4 linked regions of the Homo sapiens genome follow. The protein of the gene in region 4 interacts with the protein of the main gene of each other region in a pairwise test. Each region holds a gene or a part of one and is shown on either strand. Other genes may lie near its edges.

Region 1 (3,639 bases), on a different chromosome or scaffold from region 4:
TTTACTTTTCTTTCCCATAAAGGCAGTCTGCAGAAGAGCAATTAATCTAGGGCTGACAGGCAGCCCCTTCTGTGTAGCCATCCTCAGCACATGGCAGTTGAGACAGTAGGAAGAAGGGAGAGGAATAAAAGGGAATGTGTCTAAAGTTTCTCCATTAAGTATGGTGCATGCAGTAAGTTTTTAGAATGTATCCTTTAATAAATCAAGAAAATTATCTAATCTTCGTTTGCTAAGATTGACCATAAATAAGTATTGAACTTCAAAATCCTGTGCTTTTTTTCTCCCTTTGTCCATTAATTTCATAAATTGTGGCCTGGCATGGTGGATCACAGCACCTTGGGAGGCCAAGGTGGTTGGATCGCTTGAGGCCAGGAGTTCAAGACCAGCCTGGCCAACATGGTGAAACCTCATTTCTACTAAAAATAAAAAAATCAGCCAGGCGTGGTGAAGCATGTCTGTAATCCCAGCTACTGGGGAGACTGAGACATGAGAATCGCTTGAACCTGGGAGGTGGAGGTTGCAATAAGCTGAGATCGTGCCACTGCACTCCATCCTGGGCAACAGAGTGAGACTCCATATCAAAAAAATAAATAAAAATTTTGTAAATTGCATTAAATGATATCCTTGGCATTCTTGAGCTATACCCCACTTGATCATGGTATGTATGTATATGTTTATGACTTCTTACTTTGAAAATATCTCAAATTTACAGAAAGGTTGCAAGAAAAAGTATAATGAATTCCCATATATCCTCTACTCAGAATTACTTGTTTTAAGTATTTTGCCACATTTGCTCTATCACTCTATATCTTTTTTTTTTTTTTTTTTTTTTTTTGAGACGGAATCACTCTGTCACCCAGGCTGGAGTGCAATGGCGTGATCTTGGCTCACTGCAACCTCCGCCTCCTGTGTTCAAGCAATTCTCCTGCCTCAGCCTTCCAAGTAGCTGGGATTACACGCGCCTGCCAGTACGCCTGGCTAATTTTTGTATTTTTATTAGAAACGAGGTTTCACCATGTTGGTCAGGTTGGTCTCAAACTCCTGACCTCAGGTGATCCACCTGCCTCAGCTTCCCAAAGTGCTGGAATTACAGGCGTGAGCTACCGCGCCTGGCCCACCCTATAGCTCTATATCTTTACATAGACACACACACACACACACACACACACACACACACACACACACGTTTTTTTTAATCGTTTGAGTTGGTGGCAGCCATGACTTTTCTTTTTGAGTCAGAGTTTCACTCTTGTTGCCCAGGCTGGAGTGCAATGGTGCAATCTCGGCCCACTGCAACCTCTTCCTCCTGCATTCAAGCGATTCTCCTGCCTCAGTCTCCCAAGTAGCTGGGATTACAGGCATGCGTCACCACACCCAGCTAATTTTGTATTTTTAGTAGAGACAGGATTTTTCCATGTTGATCAGGCTGGTTTCAAACTCCCGACCTCAGGTGATCCGCCCATCTCGGCCTCCCAAAGTGCTGGGATTACAGGCATGAGCCACCACATCCAGCCTGACATGACCTTTTAAGTCTGGCAGCATGTACGTCTTAAGAACAAAGGTGTTCTCTTCCATAACCACAATATACTTATCAATATCAGGAAATTAAACAATTATATAGTACTTTTATTCTATATAAAGCCCATATTCAGATGTTATCACTCTTCTCAATAATGTCCTTTATAATGGTTTTCCCCAATCCAGGATCCAGTCCAAGATCATGTATTGCATTGAGCTCCTTGTCTCCTTTAATCTGAAACAGTTATTCTATCTTTGTCTTTTATGACCTTGTCATTTTTTTTTTTCCTGAACCTATGGATTATATTGAAAGCATGTTTTAAAGTTAGTTGTTTTATAGAATGTTTCTCAGTTTGGATTTTTCTGATGCTTACTCATGAGTTTTTGGCAGAAATGTTATTTAAGTGATTTATGTATATTTTTAAAACCTTGTTAGATTTTATTAGCCATTGTATCATCTAGGATATCTACACCTGTATTTATCAGTGAGGTAGTCCAATATTTTTATTTTCAGTATTTATCTGGCATTGGAATCAAGGTAGCCTCATTACATGAATTGGGCAGCCTTTGTTATTCTCTCTTTATTGGAGAAACTTGTATAAGAATTATCTGTACCTCGAAAAACTTGGTAGGACTCACCTTTAAAAGCATCTGGAGGCTGGGCGCAGTGGGCTGAGGCAGTTGGATCACTTGAACCCAGGAATTCGAGACGATCCTGGGCAACATGGCGAAACTCTGTCTCTACAAAAAATACAAAAATTAGCTGGGCGTGGTGGCAGGTGCCTATAGTTCTAACTACTCAGGAGGCTGAGGCAGGAGGATTACCTGAGTCTGGGAGGTTGAGACTGTGGTAAGCCATGATCATGCCACTGCACTCCAGCCTCAGTGACAGAGTGACACCCTGTCTCAAAAAATAATAAAATAAAAGCATCTGGAGCTGGTTTTTGATTACCATTTCATCTCTTCTGCCAATTTTAGCATTTTATATTTTCTAGAAATATACTCATTTTGTGAAGATCCTCATATATGATGATTCAGTCCAGCATCCTAGAAATGCTTTATAAAAGGGATATGCCTTTGGAAGGTGTTTGTTCAGAGTGCTTTGGTGGCCAATTAAAAATATTCCTTTCTATCCAAATATGTTCCCTTCCTGAGTTTAGATAGCAAGAGTTCAATACCTGAATTTATTTGGTTTGGATATTGGATGTCAAGAGAGTTCAGGATAATTTCATCTGAAAATTTATAAATTTATTCATATCTGTTCAGTTCTTGATTTTTTTTCCTTTTTTTTTTGTTTGTTTGTTTGTTTGTTTTTGTTTGTGGAGATAGTCTCACTCTGTCTTCCAGGCTGGAGTTCAGTGGTGCGATCTTGGCTCACCGCAACCTCTGCTTTCCAGGCTCAGGGGATTCTTGTGCCTCAGCTTCCTGAGTAGCAAGGATTACAGGCCCGTGCCACCACACCCGGCTAATTTTTGTATTTTAGTAGAGACGGGGTTTCACCATGTTTGCCAGACTGGTCTCGAACTCCGTACCTCAGGTGATCCACTCGCTTCAGCCTCCGAAAGTGCTGGGATTACAGGTGTGAGCCACCATGATGGCCCAGTTCTTGAATTTTGATGACTACAGTTCAAATTGATTGTATCAAGAACCTTATAACTACTCATACCACTGACAGTGATTTCTTCTCTAGGCATTTACGGTAGGGAAACAATTTGGGGCCAGGTGTGGTGGCTCACGCCTGTAATCCCAGCACTTTGGGAGGCCGAGGCGGGTGAATCACGAGGTCAGGAGTTTGGGACCAGCCTGGCCAACATGATGAAACCCCATCTCTACTAAAAATACAAAAAATTAGCTGGGTGTGGTGGCAGGCACCTGTAATCCCAGCTACTCGGGAGGCTGAGGAAGGACAATCGCTTGAACCCAGGAGGTGGAAGTTGCAGTGAGCCAAGATCACGCCACTGCACTCCAGCCCGGAGGACAGTGCGAGACTCCCTCTCAAAAAAAAAAAAAAAAAAAAAAGAGTTTGGGTTCCAAGCTGAGTTCGTGGGGACAGGGACTTTATTTTGTTCACAGCAGTATCCCCATTACCTAGAACAGTACTTATCGTATAGCCAATGTTAG
Region 2 (3,639 bases), on a different chromosome or scaffold from region 4:
GCAGGGCTGGGTATCAGACAACACCAGGGCTCCTTGTTGATAACAGTATTGAGATGGTGTGAAAAAAACAGTTCTTACCATTCATGCTGAAGTATTTTCAGGTAAACAATTAAGGCTGTCTGGGGACTGTTAAGTAGGCCGGGGGAAATGAAACGAAATGAACGTGGCAACTGTTGAAGCTGAGTGAAAAATATACAGCGGTTCACTGCAGTCGTCTAATTTTATGTGTGTTGGAATTTCTATAATAAAAATCTTAAGAAAGAAAAATCAGAAAACTTGGGGCAATCCAGAAACTAGACAAAGACAGAGATTTTCAGTCCCTTCAATGAAATGCTGTCTGGCCTCAAAAGCACCTGGATCGCATCCATCCTCAGTCCCTGTGACACCATTTCCAATAAAATCATAACGTGCAATTCTTTTTTTTTTTTTTTCTTGAGACAGAGTCTTGCTCTGTCACCCAGGCTAGAGTGCAGTGGCTCGATCTCCGCTCACTGTGACCTCTGCCTCCTGGGTCCAAGTGATCCTCCTGTCTCTGTCTCGGCCTCCCGAGTAGTTGGGATTACAGGCACCCAGCCCCCACCCCCGGCTAATTTTTGTATTTTTAGTAGAGATGGGGTTTCACCATTTTGGACAGGCTGGTCTTGAACCCCTGACCTCAGGTGATTCACCTTCCTCAGCCTCCCAAAGTGCTGGGATTACAGGCGTGAGCCACCACCTCGCCGGGCCTTGAGTCTTTCTTTTAACAGCATGTGCTAAACTCCATTGTTCATTGCACTGGCTTCAGCCATCCATTGTTAGAATTTAACATTTTTAATTCTTTTTTTTTTTTTTTTTTTTGAGATGGAGTCTCGCTCTTTCACCCAGGCCAGACTGCCATGGCGCTATCTCGGCTCACTGCAAGCTCCGCCTCCTGGGTTCACACCATTCTCCTGCCTCAGCCTCCCAAGTAGCTGGGACTACAGGCGCCCACCACCGTGCCCAGCTAATTTTTTGTATTTTTAGTAGAGACGGGGTTTCACCGTGTTAGCCAAGATGGTCTCGATCTGCTGACCTCGTGATCCCCCCGCCTCAGCCTCCAGAAGTGCTGGGATTACAGGCGTGAGCCACCGTGCCCGGCCTTAATTCTTTACTTTGAAACCATTTCGCCTTTACAGAGAAGTTACAAGAATGGTGCATGAAACTTCCCTCTACTCTTTGCCCAGGTTCACTAATGTGTCACTCTTGCCCCATGGGCTTTATCATGGTCTGAGATGACAATAGTAGGCTGGAGACATCAAGCCCCTTTATCCTTTAACATGGCAGCGTGTATGTCCTATGAGTACAGACATCCTCTTACACCACCTCTGCACAATTAACAAACTCAGGAAAGACAAGTCTGACAACACGTTTAAATAACTTACGCTCACCTTCCAATTTCCTCAGTGGTTCCGTTAGTATCCACGACAGCATGTTTTTCCCTCCAGCACAGGGTCAGGGCCAGCACATGCACTGGACTGCCTTGTCCCTGTGGTGTATTGTATTGTACTGTCTTCTCTACCTACCCTGTGGTGTACTGTATTGTACTGTCTCCCCACCCCGCCCAGCCCCGCCCTGCCCTCCTTTCTCTTCTCTTCTCTTCTCTTTCATTTTTGAGACAGGGTGTTGCTCTGCTGCCCAGACTGGAGTGTAGTGGCACGATCTCGGCTCACTGCAGCCTCCACCTCCCGGGTTCAAGTGATTCTCCTGCTTCAGCCTCCCTAGTAGCTGGAATTACAGGCACATGTCACCACGCCCGGCTAACTTTTGTATTTTTAGTGAGGACGAGGTTTCACCATGTTGGCCAGGCTGGTCTTGAATTCCTGACCTTGTGATCCGCTGGCCTCAGCCTCCCAAAGTGCTAGGATTACAGGCGTGAGCCACCACACCAGGCCCCTGTGGTCTTCTTCAAGCTGGACCTGGCCTGCCCTGTTTCATCGCTCATGTCCTCGACAATTTTTGCTACAGACCATTGTTTCATAGAATGTCCCTCCATTTCGTTTGCTGATTTTTGCTCATAATCAGACTCTCTTCCCCAGATAGAAAGCAACCTAAATGATGTATGCTCTTGGGAAGGACGGCATCCATCTGCCCAAATCTGTGGCATTAACCTGGACCACCCAGGTATTGGGATGCAAATCTCGCCAGTCTACAGTTAGCAACTGTCCCTTGCCAACAAGGAATCTGTGGGGAAATCCTTTGAGACCACAGACATTTCCTGCTCCTCATCAAACATGTCTTCTTTAATGAGTTTAGCACTCATTCATGACGCCTGCCCAAATCAATCCGTACAGTTATTGCTGTAAAATGTGATTATTCCCAACTCGCCTCCCATTTATCAGTTGGCACTTTGCTCTAGGAAGTGCCCTCTCTTCCCCACCCCTCCCACTTAGGTTTTGTAGTAAATTAGTGTTTCCCTATCCACCCAGAAGCTCAGAAAGTGACCTTATTTGGAAATAGTCTTTCCAGTAGTAATAAGGAACATGAGATTAAATCATCCTGTATTTACAGTGGTCCCTAAATCCAATCACTGGTGTCCTTACAATAAAAGGTCATGTGAAAATGGCGATAGAAGTCAAAGTGATATAGCTCCAAACCAAGGGCACCATGAGCCACCAGGAACTAAAAGAGGCAAAAAAGTTTTCTCCCCTAGAGCCCTGGGAGGGATCGTGGCCCTGCCGCCACCTTGATTTTGGACTTCTAGCCTCTAAAACTGTGGGAGAATACATTTCTGGTTTTTAGGTCACCCCGTTTATGGCATTTTGCTACAGCAGGCCTAAGAAACTCATACATATAGTTATGTACTTATTATCAATGGTGAGTCCTGGATGCCTATTTTGTTCCTTGTATAATCCATGCTTGTCTTTATTTATTCTGATGCCTAAATGGTCCCAGACTTGGCTGCAACTCCTTCAAGTTGGCCCCTGAGTACATCTGCCATGCCCCCACCACTTTTCACCACTCACTTGCGTTCTAACACAAGAACACGTTTCAGGCTTATTGTGTATTTTTCCCTGTCCCCATCCCATATTCAGTCATTTCTCCAAGGTTCTCTAGCTCCTTTAAGATGCAACAGTATTGAGAAACCAACATCTGGGCACTAAGAAAGCTCACTGCTAATGAGGTGCTAAGAAATAACTGTTATGTGTAGAGTATGTTTTACAAATTACGGTGCATAATTTAACATAATATATACCAAATATATATATAAATGAAAGCATGAGTTACACTGATACCTCCAATTCCAATTCAACCCCTCCAGATTCTTCCTTGCCTTCCCCTATTCCATCCTTATATCTCCCTCCTTCCTCAGTGAGCACCCTGGCTACAACACTATTAACACACTTCTTATCTGTCTAATCTCACAATTCACACAAAGTCATTTCAGAATGGATATACCCACACCACTATGAAAATCAAACCTACTAAGAAGGGTGCCAGTTTTGCTTTCAGGTTGTTGTTTCTCCTGTAGGCTGAGGATACACCGTCAAAGCACTGAGTCCAACATTACGGTTTCTTTTCCCCCATCTGTGTAGTCATGTTACTCATTTGCAACACATTTGCATTTATGTGCTTCTTTGTATTCAATTCTAGTTTCCTGCTATTCTTAGTGATTTATTTTTT
Region 3 (3,639 bases), on a different chromosome or scaffold from region 4:
TTTTTGTTTTTGTTTTAGAGGCAGAGTCTTGCTCCATTGCCCAGGCTGGAGTGCAGTGGCATGATCTTCCCTCACTGCAGCCTTGATCTCCTGGGCTCCAGCCATCTCCCACCTCGGTCTCCCAAGTAGCTGGGATGGCAGGCACATGGCCATGATCAGCTATTTTTTTTTTTTTTAATTTATTTAGTGGAGACAGGGTCTCACTATGTTGCAGGCTGGTGTCAAATGATCCTCCCACCTTAGCCTGCCAAAGTGCTGGGATTACAGGCATGAGCCACTGCACCTAGCCCCATTACCCCATTAATGTCCTTTGATGGAAAAGTAAAGTGAAGGTCAGAGAAGAAAAGTGACCTGCCTAAGATTAGCAAATAACAGGGATGGTCTGTGTGATTCCAAAACCCTGGTTCATTGTGCTGCATCCCACCATATAAAAGGCATGCAGGCTGAAAGAGATTTCCTTTTTCTGTTGTTTTATTCACTCCTCAACCTCTACTTCCTAACACTCTTCTTTTTCCCTTTCCATACACCCACAATGACCTGAAACACTTTTGGCTTACTTTTTTATTTTGCATGCTTTAAGGATTCTTTTTAATACACAGGTATTTCTCCATAACAGTTTATACGCATTTGTATATAAGCATACACTACAAAATGATTAATTGAGCGTTGTATGTTTTTATCAAAGGAAACAATGCAAAGATTTCTCCAAAGTGCTGTTTGACTAGAGATGATTAATTTTAATTTTCACATGAGCGGTATAATGCTATTAATCATTTAATATGTTTAATCATAATCTCTGTAATTCCTAATTAGGTTCATTAAACTGAAACATCCAGCAGTTATACACAAATCCAAATCTATGTTTCCTTCTCAGGATAAGAAGGAGCTCATTTTGTTTTTGCATTGAAACGGGAACTTCTAACAGGATGGAAGAGAATGGACTGGAAGCTTAGGGTTTCAGCTACAGCATCTGTAAACTCCGAGTCTGGGTGTAGAGTACTAAAACCCCTTAACTTCTGAAAAGTGACAGTTGCAGGATTCGAGCTCATTTCTGTGTCATGGACGTGGCACCAAACCTCGTATTCTCAGCGGAGAAAACGCAAATTCTGCTCTGTTTGGGTTTCAGTGTTACAGTGTTGCTCTTCGACTATCACATGAAGGCGGCGACATTGATTGTACACTTCTTCATGCATTTGTTTATTCGTGTACTAATAATTCATTCGGTCAGTGAGTGAGCCAACTGTTAAACAGACATTTATCATTTGTGTTACAAGCTGGTCATACCACACTCCTGCTGTGACCCTTAGGTGGCTCCTTATTGCTCTTAGGATGAAGCTCAGACTCTTGCTTTGCACAGTGTCCTTTGATCTAGCCCCTTGACTATCTTTGAAACCTGTCCTCCTGCCTTCCCTTCATACATGCCTCATCTGACCAGTGGTGCTGGAGTCCACACATACTCTCCTGAATCCAAGACATCATTTCACATCTCTGCACATCTGCACATGCACTGCCCTGTCTTGGAATAGCCTCAGTCCTTTTCACCTCTTCTCTTAGACATCTCCCACTTAACGTTTAACCTCCAGAATTGGCAAGCCTGGCTGAACCTCCAGCAGTGTCATATGACCTTGATTTAAGGTTACTCAGCCCTTTGTGATTGCCTCTTATCCCAACATTTACCAGTCTCTGGGGATGGTGGCTCACGCCTGTAGTCCCAGTGCTTTGGGAGGCAGAGGCAGAGGCAGGAGGATCACTTGAGGCCAGAGGTTCAAGACCAGCCTGGGCAACTTAGTGTGACCCAGGCTCTGCAAATAAAAATTAGCTGGGTATAATGGCTCATGCCTGTAATCCTAGCTACTTGGAAGGCTGATGTGGCAAGATTGAGCCCAGGATTTCAAGGCTTCAGTGAGCCGTGATTGTGCCATGGCATTCCAGCCTGAGTGACAGAGCAAGACCCAACTCCAAGAAAACAACAACAAAAGACAATGACAAAATGATTCTATTTATGATTGTTTTTCTCTATTGGTGTCATGCACTAAAGTTGGAATTGCATGTGACAAGGAGGGCTGATTTATGTGTCCAACACAAAGCAGTTGCTCAGTAAAGATGTGTAAACACTTTAAAAATAAGCAAATGAAAACCTTTCCTTCGTGTTTCTCAAAGGAGGTTTATTTCTCTTTTTGGTATTTAAAAAACTTGCCATCATTCTAAACATTTCGTCACTTTCCATTTATTGAATACATACCAGGAACTTGGCCAAGTTAGCACACATTAATCAATCACAAAGCCTCAAAAGGTATGAACTCATTATTCTTTATTTACCAGTTAAGAAAATGACCACTGTACTGCTTCCTATTCAATCCAACAGTATAGGCAAAATGACTAAATACATTGTCTAAATACATGACTTGCACTTAAAAGCTGAAGTCAACTGGTAGGTCTTTTGATACCAGAGCATCTTGGAAGAATGGTTTGCCAGCTAACAAGATGTCTTTATTTCAAAATGCGATTCAGGGTGTGTTAGGAAGGAAAATGCAAATGAAACCTTCCAGTACATACCAGGGCTGATGAGAAACTTGCTAATTATGCCCATGTTATCTGAGTGTTTGTTTTGTATTTCACTTTGTAAGATTGTCTTCTCTCGGTCGTTATTATTTTACACCTGGCTGCCTACATTGATAGTTTTGTCCCAATTATGTACTTCTAGATTGCTTATAAACAGGTCAGGATGATTCCTCACTCATAAATTTGATAGGCTTCTGTGTAAGCTTTCTATCATAGTTTCAAAGTTGGTATCTGATGTGGATGGCATTTACTGCCAGCTGGAGGCAATAGTTGCTAATTGCAGAGAAGTATCAAATGCTAAATGTCTGAAATGTTAAAACTCTAGAACCGAGAGTATGGCAGTGGCTATAATGATACCTAATGTGACTGTGACTTTTCCCCTCGTTCCTGCCAAATATGTGGGTGTCAATGTAACGTCATGTTATACAGCCTTATTTGGAAGACAGGGGAGGTGAAACAATCAGTTATGCTGATGATGTTACATGGTCTAGGCAAACAGAGCACAACAGCACTTTCTGCAGAGATGGAAACGTTCTGTATTTGCATTATTCAGTATGGAAGCAATAACTACATGTGGTTCTTGAGCGCTTGAAATGCAGCTAATGCAAACAAAGTTAAATATCTTGTTTTAATTCAGTTAAATGTAAATTGTCACATGTGGTCAACTGTAGTGGACAGCAAAAGTTTGTACAATTAGAACCTCAAAAGAATAAGTCAATCAGCTGGTTATTTGAACTCCAGAATGCCAACTAGTCTTTTCACATTTTTTACATTTAATTATGTTTTATCTGCACAATTACCTGAACAATTATGTAGGCATATCTTCAGATTCTGAACAGCGTCGGTTAAGAAATACACACTGTCCTGCCTTTAAAGATTATTACCCCCTTCTTGATGAGGTTCTCGCTCCCCACCTCCCAACCCCAGCAGCTCCCAGTCCCCTTCCTTTGCTTTTTCTAGCCTATAGTGCTTTTCTCTGTCTGCCAACACTCTATCTATGGATTTATTGTCTGTGTTGCCCTCATGAGAATGATGCTCCCTGAGGGCAGGGATTTTTGTCTGCTTTTCCCACTGCCT
Region 4 (4,085 bases):
ATAATACAACATTTATCAAACTCTGAAAAGATGGGAACTAACTCAACTTAAACATCTAAGAGACACCTACAGCCAACATCTTGGTTAATGGTGAAACATTCAAAATATTCCCATTAAAGCCAGGAGGAAGCCAAGGACACTGCCGTCAAATTACTGATTCCTGGTTTAGCGGTTCCAGTGAGTCATGCACTCTCCTTGCTTCCGTTAACCGCCCCCCCCCCCACCCCAACACCTTTTGTCTGATTCGTCACATGTCCTTTGATCCCCTTTTTCCTCAATCTGTTTGAAATTTTACCTTCTATTCCAATTCATTTAGTGGTTCCCAAAGGGTACCCACGTTGAGACTTAAAAATGTGTCAGTCTAGATTTTTATTGCTCTTATATTCAGCCAGTCTATCGTCTCCAGGCACTAGAGAAGCACTTTAGTAACTTCTAGCTCCTTCTGAGTTTTCGCATGTCCCACATGTCTATATGAGTGTCTTCTGGAATTTTAATTCTAGGTCATCAATCCTTTTTCCAGAATCGTACTTCTCTGGACTTAAGAATACAGTTTCCTAATTTCCATGCTTAGTGATCCTTGTTGCATCCCACTTCTTCCAGGTTGTCTGGGTTGGCTTCTTCTTGGCTGAAAAACGTGACGTGTACTTTCACTGTACATGACAGTTCCATTCCAATCGCCTTGTACAGAAAGGGTGTTTGGCAGCTTGCATGTTGTAAGTTGCGTACTCCAAGTTCAGGGGAAGCTCAGGCTTCAGGTCCAGTCGGGGGAGGAGTGGAGCAGAAGTGGGGCTGGGGGGAACGTCCAGGTGGAAGGAAGGGAGGCTGGGAACAACGTGGGTGGCAGATAGTGGTCAATACGCAATGTCGGTGAGGAACACTGGGACCCCTTGCACGTAGGTGCCCTGGGGGGTTTGAATGACTTGTAAAACCGCTGAGTCACCCAGAGCCCTAAACCCGATGCAGGGATAGAGGGTCAAGACGGGTTGCCAGTCAACAGCCTGAGGCCCAGGAGCAGCGGGCGGCTCCTGAAACCCCAGCTCAGGTTGCGCCACGTCGGGGCCAGGGCCTTCCTGCACAGTTCCAGGCGGAGGACCTGTTTCAGAAAGGGAGAAGGCTGCGGTCTCCGTGATTTCCGGTTCCCCCTGGTGGCCTGGCTCTCCATGGTGGTCCAGTTGGATGTGCACGTCCGGTGCCATCAAGCCTTCTGCCCCCTGTCTCTGGCCAGCGTCCCCGCGGGGCCCAGCCCTTCTGCCACGGCCTCGCCCTGGCCGCCGGCTTCCTCCCCGGCGCCGGCCTCTCTCTGCAGGAGGGGGTGACTCTGGGCGAGCTGGGGGCTGCCGTCTGAAGGGTTTCACGTAAGCGATGGGTTTTGCGGGTTGGGCTGGCTGTGCGGGCCCATCTGCTTCCACGGAGCCTTCAGGGTCCGCAACACAGCAGCCTGGCTCTGGAGGAGGCCCACCTGAGGCTAAAAGAGAAGCGGAGCGTGAGCAGAGAGAGACAGAAGGAACTTCACCCGTCAAGCAGTTATAGGATACTTTTACAAATAAATACTCAGAGAAAAGAGGGATTTCTGAAGTTAAAATTGTGAGAGAAGAAACAAAACTCTCCACGGAAGTTGGAGAATGAAGTTGAGAAGGTCTCCCACAGAACAAAGCAAAAACCTAAAATGATGGAAAGAAGGATGAAATATAAGAGAATTAGAGGTATGCTGTGGCTGAGACATTTCACCAGAAAATTTCAGAGTGCTGAGGAAAAAGAGAAGATTCTAACAGATTCTAGAGAGCGGGAGACAGAGAAAGGAAAAGTCACATGGAAAGGGCTAGGATTCCACATGTCTCAAAAGTCAGACATCTCAAAAGCAGCAGTTCAGTCTAGAACATAACAGAAAATGTCTTCGAAATTTCAAGGGAAATGAATTTCCCACCTAAAATTTCCTGTCCAACCGAAGTTTCGCTGAAGAATCTGGGAGGGGAGAATGAAGATGTTTCAGACAAGCAAGATGTTAAAGAATTTCCTTTCAGTGGATGCTTTATTGTTATGCATCTGTCAAACTAGACAAGATTAAAAGATTTAGGACACTCAGCGTATGAAGGGAAAAGTTTTGGAGAACAACGTGGCAACAGCCGGAAAATTCCAACTCCTCCGGGAAAGAACAAGGTGGAAGTACCGGTTTATCATAGATCAAGACGTAGCGTGAGGACTCGCTCTGCTACGGAGAAACAGTAATACAAAACTAAACAGAAGGAAACAGCGACAACAACAGCAAATCTCAGATTTGGGAAATGGGATTACGGTTCGGAAGAGGGAAAGGAATTTCCCAGATGATGTGGAACCCGGGAGCTGACTTCCAACAAGCAGCCCAGGTTGAGGCAGGCTAGGAGAAGGTGAAACAGAGAATGCTTGATTGAGTTTGAGTGTCAACCATTGGGGAAGAATTGGGGAACAGACGAAATTAAAAAGAGAGGAGTGGCAGGCGTTTGATGTACCTTGATTAGGGGCCATGGAGCGAAGTCGCTTCGAAGGCCTTGGTTCCTCCATGAGCAATCGGCGGGAGGGGCTGGGGAGAAAAACAAGAGAGCAAGAACGGATTTAGGAAGACAGAGGTGACAAGGCAGGGGGATGGCCGTGGCCTTTCTAGGGGAATGAGGATTCTGTCCCCAACTGCACCCACCCGAGATCCGTCCACGCCTCCGGGACCCCCAGACACACACCTGATCTTCCCACAGCTGGCTCCGGAGATCTGAAAATTAGGAGACTCTTCGACGAAGAGAGGCCCGAGGAGTCGGAGGTGTCCACAGGTTCACCGCTGTAGCTCTGAGGTAGTCCACCCGCAGCCAGGGAGTCTGGAGGGAGCACGCAGCAGGTTCTGGCTCCGAGCCCAGCAGAAAGCCGACTGCTGGAGGCCGAGCGCCGTCCCTCTTATATGGCAGCAAGGCAGTCGCGTAAGGGACAGGCGTCGTCAGAGGGGGGCCGGCTGGGGCGGGCCTGGCTGGGCTTGCGAGGCGCATTGGGCCAGTCCCCTGCCAGTCAAATGGGGGCCCTTCTGAGATGCCGCCATTTCTAGACGTCCGTGGTTGATTGATTAATCTAATCATCGAGGAAAAAAAATTGCATAATGACCTCTGAGTGTCAGCACAATGAGGTGTGGTGCCCTGAAAGCGGCTGACAGGAAGATGCGATTAGCTTAGATCTGAGCATGGTCAAGGAAAGCATCCAAAGCGGGGATATCTGGGCTGAAATCTGGAACATAACGTTTGAAATTAGTCATCCTGAACCGGGTTGGGAGAGGCAGGGAGGGAGGAAGGGGAGTGAAGAGAGTGTGCTGAGGCCCGGACTGGAAGGGAGCCCGGCACATTCTGGGAATGGACGGGAGGCCAAGTCCAGGCCCGGAGGTGGTGCGTGTGAGACGGGGCTGGAGATGCGTGTGAGACCCACACCGCTGGCTTTTATTGCTGTGGGTGCACTCACGGGTGGAGGAAGACAGCGGGAAACACAGCAGGACGCTGGAGGGGATCCCACAGTGGGTTATTTGGTTGGTTTGCATCCTTGTGTTTTTTACAGAGACTGGTTCTCGCTCTGTAGCCCAGGCTGGAGTGCAGCGGTGCCATCTCGGCTCGCTGCGGCTACTTGGGGGGGTTGGGGGGGGGTGGCTGAGATAGGAGAATCAGTTCAAGTGATTCTCCTGTCTCGGCCTCCGGAGTAGCTGGACTACAGGTGAGCGCCACCACATCGGGATAATTTTCGGATTTTTTTGGAGAGACGAGTTTTCGCTATGTGCCCAGGCTTGTTTGGAAGGCCTGAGCTCAAGCCGTCCGTCCCGCTCAACCTCCCGAGTCGCTGGGACCCCAGGCGCAAGCCACCATGCCGGGCCAATTACTTTTTTGGGTTGTATTTCCTGTTGAAGTGAGGTTTTGCTATGCTTTCACCTCACATACCTTTTCTGTCCCAAGACCCCATCCAGGGTACCACCTTACAACTCGTCACGGTTCCCCTTGGCTGCGACGGTTTCTCACACTTGCCTTGTTTTTGATGACTCTGACACTTTGAATACTGATCAGATATATTGTGGGATGTCCTCTCCTGAA

What was found. Proteins that work in one complex are often made in the same cells at the same time.
Region 1: the proteins of PRR20A (region 4) and RBM10 interact in binary tests that used the Homo sapiens proteins (3 or more experiments, as listed by UniProt).
Region 2: the proteins of PRR20A (region 4) and ROR2 interact in a two-hybrid assay, tested with the Homo sapiens proteins (2 studies listed by BioGRID).
Region 3: the proteins of PRR20A (region 4) and RBFOX1 interact in a two-hybrid assay, tested with the Homo sapiens proteins (one large-scale study listed by BioGRID).

What each region holds. Positions count from the first base shown.
Region 1 is NC_000023.11:47,151,632-47,155,270, forward strand, and holds part of RBM10 (RNA-binding protein 10), read left to right. Parts: intron 1-3,639. UniProt on the Homo sapiens protein: Binds to ssRNA containing the consensus sequence 5'-AGGUAA-3'. May be involved in post-transcriptional processing, most probably in mRNA splicing. Binds to RNA homopolymers, with a preference for poly(G) and poly(U) and little for poly(A).
Region 2 is NC_000009.12:91,940,179-91,943,817, forward strand, and holds part of ROR2 (tyrosine-protein kinase transmembrane receptor ROR2 isoform 1 precursor), read right to left. Parts: intron 1-3,639. UniProt on the Homo sapiens protein: Tyrosine-protein kinase receptor which may be involved in the early formation of the chondrocytes. It seems to be required for cartilage and growth plate development. Phosphorylates YWHAB, leading to induction of osteogenesis and bone formation.
Region 3 is NC_000016.10:7,575,935-7,579,573, forward strand, and holds part of RBFOX1 (RNA binding protein fox-1 homolog 1), read left to right. Parts: intron 1-3,639. UniProt on the Homo sapiens protein: RNA-binding protein that regulates alternative splicing events by binding to 5'-UGCAUGU-3' elements. Regulates alternative splicing of tissue-specific exons and of differentially spliced exons during erythropoiesis.
Region 4 is NC_000013.11:57,139,758-57,143,842, reverse strand, and holds the start of PRR20A (proline-rich protein 20A), read right to left. Parts: upstream 2,926-4,085; 5' UTR 2,712-2,925; intron 2,558-2,711; 5' UTR 2,539-2,557; coding exon 2,487-2,538; intron 1,466-2,486; coding exon 852-1,465; 3' UTR 1-851.